Regions from separate parts of the Homo sapiens genome. Here region 2 is linked to region 1. The links come from fine-mapping of genetic effects on gene expression. A gene starts in region 1. The other region holds a variant in brackets. All regions are shown on one strand. Distances are from middle to middle.

Region 1 (8,397 bases):
TTCCACGTAGAAGTGGGGTCAGGAGACCAGGCAAAGGAATATGAGTATATATCTAAGTCACTTAGGAACTTTTACGCAAGTGCAAGAAACTTTTTTTTTTTTTTTTTGAGACAAGGTCTTGCTCTGTCGCCCAGACTGTAGTGGAGTGGTACAATCTTGGCTCACTGCAGCCTCAACCTCCCAGGCTTAAGCGATCCTCCCACCTCAGCTCCCAAGTAGCTGGAACTACAGGTGTACACCAACACACCTGACTAATTCTTTTAATTTTTTTGTAGAGACAAGGTCTCACTATGTTGCCCAGGCTGGACTCCAACTCCTGGGCTCAAGCAATCTTCCTTCCTTGACCTCCTAAAGTGCTGGGATTACAGGTGTGAGTCACCACGCCCGGCCCGGTGCAAGAACTTATGTCAAAGTGGCTACAAGATTGTTTAAAAGGAGACAGATGAATGTAACCCCATGTTTACTGCTAGAAACCAAAGCTTTATGTGAAATCTTGAATTTAGGGGCAGGGAGGGAGGGTAGAAAGGCTTGTACCTTCCCTGATCCCTGCCCCTCAGTCCTGAACTGCAGGAGACCAGGGCCCCTTGGGCTTTGGTTACTCCATCTCTGGGGTGCATCTATTGGATGGCTGATTTTTCTGTACCAGGTACTTCCTTTCCCATTTTCTAATCACTTTGCAACACACATGCTGACCCTTTTCACTTCCCTTCTCCTTTCCCTGGAAAGATATAATGAATACATAAAGACTTACTGGTACTGAAACTCAAAAAAAAAAAAAGATAAAAAAGATCTGACAATGAGTGATGCTAAACATTACTCACCAGGGTAATGTTTAAAAAGGGTCACCAGAGATGGCAGGGCTGCCTATAACAGGTGACGAGATGGCTAAGAAGGCTCAAGCAAGACTCTGGCCAGAAAGAGGAGCTCCTCCCAGCCAGAAGAACCTCAGAAGGGTTAAGTGGCAACAACTTCAAGTCCATCTCGCAAGAACTTTCAGCCACCAATAAATCCAAGAACTGAAGGCCTACTGCAAGGTGGCGCTTGTGTAGGGGCTAGGTAAAGCTGCAAAGGAAACACAGGCTGCTGTCCTGGGCCCACAACTGCTCTTGGATGTCACACTGGAGGGGACTTAACTCTCACTTCATGATTGAGGAAACTGCAACCCCAGAGTGTGAACATCCAGGCCTCCAGAGGCCATCTGCAGAACGGGGTCACCCTCCAAAGTATTTTTTTTTTTTTTTTTTCAGACTGGGTCTTGCTCTGTCACCCAGGCTGGAGTACAGTGGCATGATCTACCTTGTTGCAACCTCTGCCTCCTGGGCTCAAGTAATCCTCCCAAACTCAGCCTCCCAAGTAGCTGGGACTTCAGATGTGCACCACCACACCCAGCTAATTTTTGTGTTTTCTGTAGAGACGGGATTTCACCATGTTGCCCAAGCTGGTCTTGAACTCCTGGGATCAAGCAATCCCCCTGCCTCAGCCTCCCAAAGTATTGGGATTACAGGTGTGAGCCACTGCACCCAGCACACCCCAAAATCTTCATCTTAAGACCTACCCAGTTACCCCAGGACACCAATCTTGTTCTGTTTCCCAATTAGCTTTGTCTCATCATAAATGCTATACTCTGCAGATACTCTTGATTCACTCAATCATTTAACAGAAATTCATCAAATGTCTACTATGAGCCAGCACTCTGCCTTCAAGATATGAACAGAGGAGAGTAGCTGCCTGGCTGGCACTTGGGGCTCAGGATGAGACGACAACCTAGAAATGGGCTCATCATTAGACCAGGGGGAAAGTGGGGTATGGTGCTATGAGGCGGGGAGGGATCCCTGGGGGGCCCCCGGGCTGACCTACTGAGAAACAGGGTCTATTACACTGAAGAGCTTAGACCCGTCTTGCAAGGTGTTGTTTACCTTAGGCTATTGCTTCACAATCTTCAACCCTCGCAGGCCCGTCAGGTAGATCTGGGATTTTGTGTCATCACTGGTACAACAGTGACACCACCATGTTCTCTTCCACAGAAGTACTTTAGGATGACAGTGCAGCTGGCACTGTTGAGAGCCAACCTTGAATCCAAATGAATCTAAAACGTAAATTTTAAAAAGAAAGTCATTGATAAATTTCAGTACTTTATAACTAAGAAGTTACTTGTGGCCAGGTGTGGTGGCTCACGCCTGTAATCCTAGCACTTTGGGAAGCCAAGGTGGGTGGACTGCTTTGAACTCAGGGGGTTGAGACCAGCTTGGGCAAGATGGCGAAACCTTGTCTTTACAAAAAAAATACAAAAAAATCAGCCAGCTGTGATGGCCTGTGCCTGTGGTCCCAGCTTCTTGGCAGTCTGAGGCAGGAAGATGGCTTGAGCAGGGAAGTGGAGATTGCAGTGAGCCGTGATTGCACCACTGCATTCCAGCCTGAGCAACAGAGCCAGACCCTGTCTCAAAAAAAAGAAGTTACTTGTGACACACATCACCACAGCTGACAACACATTGGAGGCCTACAACCACAACAAGACAAGATTCCAAGGGCTTCTAAGCTGAAGCACGGCCTTTTGGGCTGCACGCCTGCCCATAGTCGATCATGTGGGCAGCAGTCAGGAAAGCGCCCTAGCCAGGCCACATGGGAAGCAGGCACATCCCTGGGAGGCAAAAGGGAAAGCGGGCCAGGCCGGGGTGACGGCAGGGCGGGGTGATGGCACAATGCATGGAGGAGACTGTGGGGAGAGCTGTTCAGGAGGTGGCCCATGCCTAAGCCTCAAGTGGAAGAGGAGGAATGATGGAGAGCGCCTCCACAGTGAGCCTCTTTCCTCATACAGGTCCATGTGGGCTATTTTGGGGCAAATCTTCAGGCAAGTTTCTAGAGAAACTGAAGGAAAACACCAGAGGGGGCTGCCCAGGTAATGCTGACAATACAGGGAGGTGAGAGGATGAGCAGATCTCAAAGGTGACTGAGAGGCAGAGGGGAGAGACAAGGAAAAACCAAAGTAAAGTGAAGTTAGGGAAACCAAGAAAAGACTTTCCAAAAGCAGTGGTCAGCGGGGTCAAAGGTCCCTTCAGTGGGCGGTACAGCAGGAAGTGGGGGAGAAGCAGGAACCGGGAATGCTGGAGGTGGGGATGGGAGGGAAAAGGCTTGGCTCTGTCCCTAAACAGAGAGAAGGTGACCTGGGAAGAGCGGGGAGGCTAACTACACAGGGAAGAGAAGCTTCCTGGAGAAAGGGATCCAGGGCACAGGCGGTGGAAGGGATTGGCCTCAAGAGACCAGGAAGAACTCTCATTTTTCCTGACAGAGAAAGTAGGATGGGTCTGGTAGCAGGCAAGTCCTGGAGTGCTGTGCAGAAGGGAAGTGAGGCAGCTTATGCCTGAGAGCCAGGCATGTTGATTGCTCACGGGGAGCCGTACATCTGTAAAGGCAGCCAGCGGCTGGCTGAGTGATCTGGCTTAGCCTGGGCTGGGAAGCACCTCCGCACACTGGCTCAAGAAATTAGACCTATTCTTCTCGCTGCTCTCACCAAGCCTTTTCCCAAGTGCGTGCCCAGAAGGAAAGCGGCCACTCTTCTACTTCTCTTGTGCCTGCAAGAGAAGTAGAACCCCACCCTGGGCATTCCATGATTATGCCAGGCCTTTCTCACTCCGCCCAGTCCCTCTCCAGCCCCTCTGCTCTCAACTCCAGCACTGCAGGGGGACAGAGTGTCTACTCCACCCCCACCAGGCAGGGGATTTTAAGCACCTGCTGGGCCCTCAAGTCTCATCTTCCTCCACAACATCTGTGAGAAGATTGAAAGGTGGTGAGAGAAAGGGATAGGAGGAGATGAACGTGTGAAAGGAAAAGAGGAGAGCAAGCCATTGCATGTTTTGGGGTTTTGTCCCACACGCAAATTTGACTACTTATAAAGTCTAAGCAAGATGTTTTAAATAATAATCATGCATCATTAGGTTTCATACTGTGCAAAAAAAATGACACAAAGTGAGATCTGTTACAAACGACACGGCAGCACTCTGCTACTTTCTGGAAGCTTAGGGCTAACAATGGAGTCAGAGCATGGCATCCAGAGCCCGTCTCTGAGCACGGCCGTGATCCTGCTCCAGCACACGCCTCGGTTTCCTCGTCTACATTACGGGAATAGTAACAGCACCCGCCTCATGAGATTGTTAGTGTTAAACGAGTTAATTAATACCACAGTATTTCAGGGCAGTTCTCGGCACAGAGGGAGAGATGGGTAAGGGCTGGCTGTTCCGGAAGATTCTGGCCTCTCCCAGTGTGTTTCGGCGCGAGGGCACCGCTGGCCCAGCAGGTGGCCCCCCGGGGCCGGCACGGGCCCCGACAGCCGCCCCCTTCCCTGAACCTCGGCGGCCCAGTCCCCGCTTACCTGAGGGGTGGAGCCGGCAGCCTGCGGAGCCACTGGCCAAGCTGGGAAGTCCGGCGCAACTCCGCACCGCAGAGCCGGCGCCTCCTCGGCAGGTAAGAGCCGCAGCCCCGCCGCCCGCCGCCTGGCGGCCCCTGACCCCTGGGCCGCGTGCCCACCACCCAACTTGTTGGCCAGCGTGCTTCTCCCAGCGCCGCAGGCCTGAGCTCCCGGAACGCGCCCAGGGGGCCTGGCCAAAGGCCGTAGTGGGCGCTCTGGATTCCGGGATGCGCCAGGGGTTACTTCCGGAAGCGCAGCCTGCGGGGGTCTTCGCGCGCACCCCCCGCCTCGCAGTTGGTACGTTCCTCCTACCTGCGGTGCCTGAGTGCGCAGGCGTGGGCAGCGAGGCGGTGCGGCCGGAAGCGAAGGGGCCGTGAGGTCAACAGTCGGTAATCGTTTATCGGTGCGGCCTTAGAGAAAGGACCTCCAAGCCCTTGTTCAATACATGTTGGGTGGTGGTCACAGGTGCCAGTCTCCGGACGGATGGCGGCCTAGATTTCCTCCCGGACTCGGTGGCACCCAAGGCCCCCTGCACGCCGGCGCTGTGCGTGCCAGGCTGACCGCCCGAGTGCGACCCGGACCTCGTCCGCACGTGCAGATGGAAGGGGCCACAAAGACGATAAGGATCCAGGTCTCCCGCGTGGAAGGCTCATCTATCGGTCGGTTCAGGAAATCCACCCAGGGTGTCTCCTGGTGTTATCAGAAAGGGGTCCCGATCCAGGCCCTAAGAGAGGGTTCTTGGATCTCATGCAAGAAAGAATTCAGGGCAAGCCCATAGAGTAAAGTGAAAACAAGTTTATTAAGAAAGCAAAGAAGTAAAAGGATGGCTACTCCATAGGCAGAGCAGCTCCAGGGCTACTGGTTACCCATTTTTTGGTTATTTCTTGATTATATGCTAAACAAGGGTTGAATTATTCATGAGTTTCAGAGAAAGGGGTGGGCAGTTCCCGGAACTGAGGCTTCCTCCCCTTTTTAGACCATATAGAGTATTTCATGATGGTGTCATGGCGTCTGTAAACTGTCATGGTGCTTGCTGGTGGGAGTGTCTTTTAGCATGCTAATGCATTATAATTAGTGCATAATGAGCAGTGAGGACCACCAGAGGTCCCTCCCATTGCCATATTGGTTTTGGTGGCGTTTAGCCAGCTTCTTTACTGCAACCTGTTTTATCAGCAAGGTCTGTATGACCTGTATCTTGTGCCAACCTTCTGTCTCATCCTGTGACTTAGAATGCCTAACCTCCTATGAATGCAGCCTCATTTTACCCAGCCCTTATTCAAGATGGAGTAATTCTGGCTTAAACACCTCTGACACTGGGGCAAATGCCTGCTGCCTGATGACTCCCACAAGTCCTTAACACCTAACCCAGAGAACATCTGGGCCTGCATCCACTCTGGTGCTCTGCCACTCCTGCAGCTACAAATTGTGTGGGAGCCGAAGAAGTCATGTTCCCTGGACGAGCACAAAATGCCTGTTTGTCCCATGTTGGTTCCACATGTGCACCAAAGTGAACAACTTTTGTCTCCCTGGCTACCTTGAACTTCTTTCCACCTCCTCAGTTGGACATATTCAAGGGGCTGGCCCGGGGGCAGGCTTCCCTAGTCTTCCCAGGGGCAACCTCAGCTTTTCCCATATCTTTCAGATGACCCTTCTCCTGCCCCAAGCAAATTAATGCCAAGCCAGTCTAGTTCTCCAGCTTGGGCTACAGCTGGGACCCCTGCCCAAGAATAGTGATTTTTATCTTTACACTTTATCCAAGTTTTTTATTTTTATTTTTATTTTTTTGAGATGGAGTCTCACTCTCTTGCCCAGGCTGGAGTGCAGTGGTGTGATCTCAGCTCACTGCAACCTCCACCTCCTGAGTTCAAGCGATTCTCCTGCCTCAGTCTCCCAAGTAGCTAAGACTACAGGCGTGAACCACCACACCTGGCTAATTTTTGTATTTTTAGTAGAGACGGGGTTTCGCCATATTGGCCAGGGTGGTCTCAAACTCCTGACTTCAAGTGATCTGCCCGCCTTGGCCTCCCAAAGTGCTGGGATTGCAGGTGTGTGCCACCCTGCCCAGCCATATGCAAGTTATTTTTAATTTCAGTTGATCTCCATGCCTCGGAGATGGAAGTATTAGTTTCTCCATTATATGGATCAGAAAATTGAGACTCACACAGCATGTTACAGTAGGAAATGGCACTAAAAGAAAAATTATTCAAACAATTGTTAAGGTGAGAGACTTTATTCAAGAACAGCTGCAATAGGGATTATGCAATAGGGGCAAAAAAATCAGGCTTAACATCAAATACAAGGACAGGTGGAGATTTATAGTTAAGCAACAGGGTGGAAGTCAGCAGATGGAAAATTACTAAGAGGACACATAAAGGTTAGGGAGATTTTTGCTGAACACAAGCCGAGGTGATCAGATACCAAGGGTAGGGGATTTTTGCTGAACTGACTCAGCAGGATTCTTGCTAAAACTGAACTAAGTGAGTTAAGGACCAGCCCAGGGTCAGGGCCTAGTCAAAACGAGGACTGAGAGGAGCCTGACTCAAGTTTAGTCAAAGAGTGAGTTCTTTTCATGAGCTACCAATGATTTGAGTTGTATTGTCAGAGGTGTCCTAACTAGAGTGACACTATCCTAAATAAAGGCTGGGGAAGGCAAGACCTGCTGGGTTGCATTCCCAGGAAGTCAGCACTCTTGATCACAAGATGTTTATTGTTGAGGAAACAAGTTAATGGAAAAAGGCATTCTTGTTTTTGTTTTTGTTTTGGAGATGGAGTCTCACTCTGTTGCCCAGGCTGGAGTGCAATGCCACCATCTCGGCTCACTGCAACCTCTGCCTCCCGGGTTCAAGTGATTCTCCTGCTTCAGCCTTCGAAGTAGCTGGAATTACAGATGTGCGCCACTTTACCTGGCTAATTTTTATATTTTTAGTAGAGACGGGGTTTTGCCATATTGGCCAGCCTGGTCTCAAACTCCTGACTTCAAGTGATCCACCCACCTCAGCCTCCCGAAGTGCTGGGATTACAGGCTTGAGCCATGGCGCCTGGCCTGGAAAAAGGCATTCTTAATTTAAACTATATTTTGCTCTAAAGATAATAGTCCACTCATAAATTCTTTCTGAAATTAATTGCACAAGAGAATAACAATACAGATAGTCTGTCACAAGCCGATCACAAGCCTTTGTAATAAAATACACTATTCTTAGCTCTAATATCCTACACAAACAAGCATTACATTTGAGGTAGGGCGTTCTTCCTCTTGCTTCCTGAGGATACCCTACTCTAATAGATTAGTTTCTAATAAACCATTTAAACTTTACTGTACTTTGCGACTCACCCTAAATTCTTTCCTGTGCAAGATCCAAGAACCTGCCCTTGGGGTCTGGGGTGAAACCCCTTTTCTGGTAAGAGTACTGTTACATGGGATCCACACTATGGGCTCAGAGTTGGTCCCTTTCCAGCGTTAATCCAGAAACACTCTAAAACAAGGAGTTTCTTACTCAAAAGAGGGCAAAAGACCAGTCAGGGATGGATTGGCAGAGGAAGAACGGAAGGAAATGCTGATCTTCCTGTAGGTACAAAACTTGTCACTGCAGCCAAGCCAAGTTTCAGGAGGGTTGACCTAAAATCATCTCGTTTTGCTAGGTGTTTTACAAAGGATAAATAGGACTGGCTCCTGCCCCTAGAGCTTCCAGATACAGCATCCCTGTTTGCCCTGTTTGCAGGGGTGACAGAAAGTGGGAAGTAGCTACATTAGCTGCTAACTCTGTCTCGGGTCAGGGGAGAGGTTGGTAGGGTTAGCCCCAACAGTGTTTTAAAATGCAGAGTAATTGTCAAGACTGGAGTCTGGGCAAACAAACAATAAATAAATAAATACAAAGTAATTGGATGGACAAAGTGCTTTGCCTCCATCTTCCCAAAGTCAAAGGCACCTGAATTTGCCATCCTGCCCTAACTCTTCCTGGACCATTTCATAGCCTTGTGGAATGTCAGAGCTAGAC
Region 2 (8,397 bases), 24 kb after region 1:
GGTTAGACCTGCCTTGTGCACTTCACTAACCAGTGTAGACCTAGCCAGTGTAGACCTAGCCAGTGTAGAGGTCAGCTTTCTTGGATTTGCTAAGTCACCTCCTGCACGTACTTTCCAGCTTCCAGTATATTGTCGCCTCCTCTCCTATTCTCGCTTCCTTGAGGATTTGTATTTTTAAAAATGTTTCTTTACTGTAGTTTTAGAGGGGCATGGAGGTGGAGTAATATTAGATACATGTGTTCAATTTTCTATCTTTATCCAGAAATATGGGTTGGTTTTATGATAGTCATTATTCACTTTTAAATCAATACCAGGTGATAATTTTACCATTGTTATGAATAAAAATGTTTGTGTAGCTTGCATTCATTGATGCTTTGATCATATGCTTCTATATTTAAAAAACCAGATTATTCTCTTTCTCTTCTTCTCACTGCTGCACTTGACTAGTCTTAAAGAGAGAAAAAACCCCAGAATAACTGGACATCTCCAATTTAGATCTTGTTATAAATAATAGTTTGAGAATAATACATTTGTCTCCTAAAGGAATAATTATAACATCAATAGTGGTGGATAGAGATGAAATGGGAGGTTGAGGAAGACGGAGGGTTTGTGATTGTGGTCCTCAGAACCCATAAGGATGTGGCCTGAATAACATCGATTTTGATTCAAGAACCAGGAGAACATCATTATATTGTAAATGTTCCTTTAAATGGAAATACATAGATTTTAATTCTTCAAAGACAGTGAAATGTTTTTGGCAGCAAGTAATAGAAGTATAAAAGCAGTAGTTTAAAAAAGTTAAGGCTTTATTTTTCTTAAATAAATTTGCAGTAGAGTCCAGTGCTGATATGGCAGCTCTCTGGTGTGGCTAACAATCTCTCTACTCTAGTGTCTTGAATATATGGCTTTCATTCTAAGGATGCCTCATGATCACAAGTTGATTACTGCACCTCCAGCTATCACCTCTGTGTTCCAGGAAGGAGGAGGGTGTTAAGGGCAGGAGGCAAGTCTACGACTTGAGTCTACCTCAGCTTTGTAAGGAGCTTTCCTGGCAACCATTCTCCAGCTTTTGTGTCTTACTGGCCTGAACTTACTTAGTCATCCCTGTCCACAAGGAAGTCTGGGAAATGCTTTTTTCTGGGCCTGTTGCCATTTCCCATCATAGATCAGTGGTCTGTCAGTCACAAACTTGCAGTGTTGGTAAGAGCAACTCAATGCCTGTCATAGTGGTGTCACTCAAAGGCATGAAGACAGTAGCAAGGGAGAGATTCAGCTGCTTTCACAACTCTGGCTGGATTTTACCTATGTGGAGAGTGTCACCCATGTTAGGGAGCCTCTGGCCAGGAGGAAGCTGTGGCAAGATGTGCTGCGTCTCCTGCTTGGCATTGCCATCTTGCTGCCGTAAGTCTGTCTGTGGATAAAATACATTAGGAAATTGGGAAGTTAGATGAGGAGTTTGTGTGATCTTGCCCCACAGCCATAACTCGGAGTTTAACACTTCACATAGAGATCATTTCCCCCTTCACTACAGTAGAATTGTAAGTGTGGTATAGAAAATTTGGAAGATATCTGTGGGATTTTTATAGTCTTATCACATTAACATAGGTACTGTTGACATTTAGTATATTTTCATTTAATCTTTTTACCCATTTTTAAAATGATTTTACACCCAATATTATACTCCTCATTTCCTTACAGTTTTCATAACCCTTATTTTAACAGCTATATGATAATCTGTCTAGTAGGTATTTCCTGCTTAGCAGTTCCACTATTTTTAGTCATTTTCTTGGTTTTATAAGAAATAATGTAATCTTTGTGCATACAGTTTTTCCTGTATTTCGAGTCTTTTTTACTTAAAAAGAACTAGCAGTGTTTGATTATGGAGTTCAGCAGTGTTAGTAATTTTATTAGTCTCTGCACAGTGTGCCATTTCAGACTGCCGTCAGCACCGCGCAAGAGGCTTGCTTTCTTTGTACTCTTGTCAGCATTAATATTATTTTTGATCATTTAATGGATTAAAATTTGCCATATGCTTTACATTTGCATTTTTGATAACTTTGACCTTATACGTTTTTCCACATTAGTTAGTTGTATTTCCTCTTTTGCGAGCTGTCTGTTCATGCCCTGTGCTCTTTTACGTATCGTTGTTTTATTGCTTTTCTTGTTGCTGTGATTTCTATGAACTTTGTTTTTACTTAACTTTTTTTTATTCTAAAATACACATAACAGAATTTATCATTTGAACCATTTTTGAATGTACAGCTTGGTGGCATTAGGCACATTCACAAACCATTGCCACCGTCTGTCTCCAGAAGCCTTTTCATCTTCCCAAACTAAAACTCTGTCCCCATTGAACACGAATTCTCTTTACTCCTTTACCTGCCCCTGGAATGCCCATTTTACTTTCTGTCTCTATACATTTGATGACTCTAGGGCCCTCATATAAATGGAATCATATAGTATTTGTCCTTTTGTGACCAGCTTACTTCACTTAGCGTCTTCATGCTTCATCCATGTTGAAGCATGTGCCAGGATTCCTTTCTTTTTAAGGCTGAATAATATTCCATTGTACATAGATACCACATTCTGCTTATTCTCTGGAAGCTTTCATATAATTAAGATAGAAAGCTTCTTTTGTTGTTATATTTGCAGCAGGTTAGTTTTACTCAGTTAATTTTTTGCCTTTCTCTTTTGGTTATTTCATTTGGACATCCATAACTTTAAATTTGTATGTTGGTAAAACCCATTTTCCTTTGATGTTTGTATTTAATCTTCATCCATCTGGGATTTATTTGGATCATCATTTCACACTGAACTTAGACCCAGAGAGAATGCAGGGAGCCAGGGTTAATCTGATTCTTGTTGGTGATGTCTTCCTACAGGTCTGTTTTTGCTTCAGGTTAAATAGGCATCTCTTTGCTGGGAGGCAAGAAACCTTCCCCAGCTGTACTCAGAAATCTTCATACCTTCTTAACCTTTCTCTCCTGATACTTCCCCACCTCTACTCAGTTTAAATATTTTGTTTATTTCACTTATAATTATGCTTGGGTTCCTATTCAAGATGACAAACATAGGTTTCTTCAGTTAATATGTTATTTCTTCTGGAATGAGATACAATATTGGCTATTATGGCTGTTTATTGAGTACTTCTATGTGCCCAGCCCCATTCTAAGTGTTTATAAGTATTAACTCATTTTTAATGCCACCAACAACCCTCTGAGATAGGTGATGTTATTAGGCCCGCTTTTCAGATCGATAGGAGGTAGCTTAAGAGAGAGATTGTACACACTACTATTGGAATCTGC[A/G]TCTCTTACTCACGTGCTTTAAATGAAGGAAATCTAAAGTAGTAATCGCTAACATTTATACTTCTAACTGTGTTCTGGGCACTTCACTGCTATTAGCAGATTTAATCTCCTCAGCCCGAGTAGGCGCATTGAAATAAATACCATGTTGTGGAGTGCTTTTTAGGTTCCCTATTTGCAGCCTGTGTTTGAGTATGACTTCATTATTCTCCCTTCCACATTTTGAGATGGCTTCCTCTCTCCCATCCAGGAATTGATGGATTCTAATTACAGTGACTAAAACTTACTTGGGGCAGTGTGTTTGAACTTTTCACCAGCTGCTGTGCCAGAGTTTAAAGTGCCAGGCTAGTTGGTAGGTAGATTTGCTTGCTTGTTGTTTGAAGAAGTGATGCACACACAGTGCAGAACTGAAAAGGTGCTGGAAGATTTCTAGAGAGCGTGCCCCCCTCGCCTCTTTCCTGCCTAGAGGAAGCCGCCCTTACCCGTTCTTAGCCAGCTGATTGTTCATGTTCCAGGGGTGATTGTGTGTAGGCATATGGGTTAGCACACACTTGTTTTTGTTCTTTCTTTTTTTGTTGTTGTTTTTTTTGAGATGGAGTCTTGCTCTGTAGCCCAGGCTGGAGTGCAGTGGCACGATCTCAGCTCACCGCAACCTCCGCCTCCCGGGTTCAAGCAATTCCCCTGCCTCAAGCCTCCTGAGTAGCTAGGACTACAGGTATGTGCCACCAAGCCTGGCTAATTTTTGTATTTTTAGTAGAGACGGGGTTTCACTATGTTGGTCAGGCTGGTCTCAAACTCCTGAGCTCATGATCCGCCCACCTCAGCCTCCTAAAGTGTTGGCATTATAGGTGTGAGCCATTGCGCCCGGCTAGCACACAGTTTTATTTTACACAAATGGTAACACAATATGCATACTGTTGCACACCTTGGATTTTTGAATTAAACTTTTTTTTTTGGTTTAAATTGTAAAAAAAAACCCTAATACTATTTGTGCCCTATTAGCCATTTTTAACTGTACAATTCTGTAATGTTAACTATATTCACACTGTTGTGTAAGAGATTCTAGAACTTTTCCATCTTGCAAAACTGAAACTCCGTACTCATTGAACGAGTCCCCATTATTTCCCCTCTCCCCCGACCTTGTTTTTTGTTTTTGAGATGGAGTTAACTCTTGTTGCCCAGGCTGGAGTACAGTGGCACCACCTCAGCTCACTGCAACCTCTGCCTCCCGGGTTTAAGCAATTCTGCTGCCTCAGCCACCCGACTGGCTGGGATTACAGGCGTGCACCACCACGCCCAGCTAATTTTTGTATTTTTAGCAGAGATGGGGTTTCCCCATGTTGGCCAGGCTGGTCTTGAACTCCTGACCTCAGGTGATCCACCTGCCCCTGCCTCCCAATGTGCTGGGATTACAGGTGTGAGCCACACCACCCAGCCTGTTTTTTGTTTTTTTTTTTTTTTTTTTTTTTTTTTTTTGAGAGGGGGTCTCTATGTTGTCCAAGCTGGAGTGCAGTGGCTATTCACAGGTGCAGTCATACAGCCACTACAGACAGCCTCGACCTCCTGGGCTGGAGTGATCCTCCTGCCTCAGCCTCCTGAGTAGCTGGGACTACAGGCACACACCCGGCTACCACACCTTGTTTTTTAAAAATAGTTTTTGGCCTGGCATGGTGGCTCACGCCTTGTAATCCCAGCCTTTGGGAGGCCGAAGTGGTGGATCACTTGAGGTCAGGAGCTCGAGACCAGCCTGGCCAACATCGTGAAACCCTGTCTCTACTAAAAATACAAAACTTAACTGAGCGTGACGGCATGTGCCTGTAATCCCAGCTACTCTGGAGGCAGAGGCAGGAGAATTGCTTGAATTCTGGGAGGTGGAGTCTCCCAGAGATCCGAGATTGGGCTACTGCACTTGAGCCTGGTTGACAGAGTGAGACTCTGTCTCAAAAAAAAAAAAAAAAAAAAAAAAGTTTTCATTACAAATTGTTGAAGCAGAAGGATATTTAAGAATGTATACGGAATGGAGACACCTTTCTCTTTTTCACTTAACAATTCATCATAGAGATTGTTTCTTCATAGAGTTCATTTTTTTAAATTGTTCCAAAGTGTTTAGTGATGGGTATTTAGGTTGTTTCTGATCTTCTGATACAGACAATGTTGACTTTTTACCTTTCCAAGCTACTTTGTTTTAGTTGGGTCTCTTAACCTCAGAATGTAATTTGATTTTGTTTTTGTTTTTAACTGAGAGACTTTTAGTAGTTGAATTTCCCATTTGTATTTGCTGATAATTTTAGTAATAGCAACTCACTTCCATTGAACACATCTGTGTATCCAGTACTGCTCTAAGCACATTATTTAGACTGCCTTTAATCTTTCCAACTCTCTGAGTGGGGTACTAATTACCTGCACTTTACCCATGAGGAGACTCAGGGAGAGAGGAAATAGCTTACCAAGCCTAGTAAAGTGGAAGGCTGGGATTTGATCCCAGTCAGTTTGACTTCACATCTCTTAATCGGACTGGTATGGCATGCTACTGTGTGACAGATATGTTTGGTCTTAATTTAACTATTTTTTTAAAATGTTATGCTTCATGTTTTTAATGTACTTTATTTATGTATTAGTATTTTTTAACTGAAGACTTATTTTTCTCTTTGCTTTGTATTGGGTGTGTGTTCTTGGTAATGATTAAAAGGACTCATGTTTGCATATTTTAGTATAATTTGATATGTTTACCCTGTATTTGTTTAGGGGTAACTAGCTCCTTCCTGCTGTAATCAGTGACCAGGTTGGTATTGCCACATGTTCTTGCCTCCCCTTCCTTCTCTCCACCACCTGCTTTTGATTAATGATGTTACTAAACTTATTCCAGTGTTAACATTTATAACTTTATGTTTACTAATGCCTCTGATACTTTATCAGTTTTAAATAATATCTTTTGATTTCACTGTAAGAGGCAAGTGTCTTTACACTCTCTCCTTCTTTCCTTGTGCACTGCTCAACTTGATATCATTTTTTTCCATTAAAATTTATAACATTTACATTCTGTTCTTAATTCCCAGAAAATAAAAGTCTTTTTTTTTTTTTTTTTTTTTGAGACGGAGTCTCACTCCATCGCCCAGGCTGGAATGCAGTGGTGTGATCTCAGCTCACTGCAACCTCCGCCTCCCACGTTCAAGCAATTCTCCTGCCTCAACCACCCAAGTAGCTGGGACTACAGGTGCACACCACCATGCCTGGCTAATTTTTGTATTTTTAGTAGAGATGGGGTTTCCCCATGTTGGCCAGGCTGGTCTCAAACTCCTGACCTCAGGTGATCCGCCCGCCTCGGCCTCCCAAAGTGCTGGGATTACAGGCATGAGCCACCGTGCCCGGCCAAAGAAAAGTCTTTATTCCTACGTCTTAAATGGCTTCATTGCTCACTGTAAGTCTTTTGCTGGACTTTCTGCATTCTTCTTGAGTGGATAAAGTTTATCCTCTAATAGTTCATGAACCCATACATTTTGGCTCATGGGAATGAAATTTTCCAAGTTCTTGTATGTTTAAGGATATATATTTTTTCTCCTTAGTATTTTATTTTATTGTTTTTTTTTTAAATTGACACATAATGTGCATATTTATGGGGTACAGAGTGAAGTTTTGATACATATAATGTGTGGTTATCAGATCAGGGTAATTAGCATATCCATCATCTCAAATATTAGATATTTTGATTTTGTAACATACTTGATTGACACTGTGGCCAGATATAGAATTCTTGGGTCGTACCTTCTTCCCTTGAAGACTCTTAAGTGTGGCCCTATGTGTCCTAGTGTTAAATGTAGCCGTGTTGAAGGCTGAGGCTGATTGTACTTTCCCTGTCGTAGGGGTGTATTAGTCTACTCGGCTGCTGTAATTTTGTTTATACCACAGGTTGGGTGGCTTAAACAGCAGACAGTTCGTTGTTTTCTCACAGTTCTGGAGGTTAGAAGTCCAAGGTCGAGGTGCCGTCGGGGTTGGCTCCTGGCGCAGCCCTCTTCCTGGCTTGTATGTGGTCACCTTTCCTGCTGGGTCCTCACATGCCTTTCCCCTGTGTGAGCGTAGAGTGGGGAGAGAATAGGAGAGAGAGACTGATTTCTGGTGTCTCTTCCTTTTCTTAGAAGACCTTCCTCCAGTCCTGTCAAATTAGGGCCCCACCCCTATGACCTCAGGTAACCGTGATGACCTCTTGAAAGGCCCTATTTCCAATTATAGTACACTGGGAGTTAGGGCTTTAATGTATGAACTGGAGGTAGGGGGAGCACAGTTCATTCATAATAAAGGGTAATGTATACGTTTTGCCCAAAGGTCCAGAGACTTTTTATTTTTTCAGTTTTAAATACGAGATATAGACCCATATTTGTTGACAAGGAAAAATGTTCATAGTATATTGTTGAATGAGAAAAATCAAGTTTATTTATTCTTTTTCTGTTTCTGTTGTCTGTCATTTCCTCCTGTTTGATGATGGTTATTGTTTTAAAATAGATACTTGGATTCTTGGAAATGTCTTTGGAAATTCTTGGGAATTTTTATCTGCTTTGTTTCAATATTTTTCCAGATATTTTTTTTTTTCGGTCTTTTGGAGACAGGATCTTGCTCTGTCACCCAGGTTGGAGTGCAGTGGCACAATCTTGGTTCATGTAGTCTTCACCTCCGAGGCTCAAGTGGTCCTACCTCAGCCCCCGAGTAGCTGGGATCACAGGCATGTGCCACCACACTTGGCTGACTTTTAAATTTTTTCATAGAGGTGGGGTCTCCCAATATTGCCCAGGCTGGTCTCAAACTCCTGGACTCAAGTGATCCTCCCTCCTCAGCCTCCTAAAGTGCTAGGATGATGGGCGTGAGCTACCACGCCTGCCCCTGGATATGTGTTTTTGTCTGCCATTTGTTTTTCCTCTTTTCTCTGTCCCTTTTCTTTCTCTTTGAGTGTTTTTATATCACTGTTGGCTGGCTTCTTTGTGCCCCTTACTCGTCTCTGAATGAGCAGAGTTCTTCTGGACTAATGGCGTGTGGGTAGGCTGGGGAGGTCCTGGGCAGCGTCTGGGGGAAGCTGTGATCTGCCCTGGACTCTTCCCTTGCCGCT

What was found. PIP is the estimated chance that this variant, and not a neighbour inherited with it, causes the effect.
Region 2: its variant is the best candidate, but not a certain one, in a credible set for the expression of LRRC61 in whole blood (TOPMed, PIP 0.64).

What each region holds. Positions count from the first base shown.
Region 1 is chr7:150,319,530-150,327,926 of GRCh38, reverse strand. It overlaps LRRC61 (leucine rich repeat containing 61), which reads right to left and starts at 4,572. Exons shown (of 3, transcript NM_001142928.2): 1 at 4,367-4,572; 2 at 1,917-2,086. ACTR3C (actin related protein 3C) reads left to right here and starts at 4,382. Exons shown (of 8, transcript NM_001164458.2): 1 at 4,382-4,458. RefSeq lists enhancers at 3,743-3,812, 5,133-5,192, 5,243-5,352 and a silencer at 4,203-4,522.
Region 2 is chr7:150,295,846-150,304,242 of GRCh38, reverse strand. All of the region lies in intron 1 of ACTR3C (actin related protein 3C), which reads left to right. Among named protein-coding and RNA genes, the nearest start is that of LRRC61, 23 kb to the left of the region's middle. The variant A/G (reference allele first, on the strand shown) is at 3,306.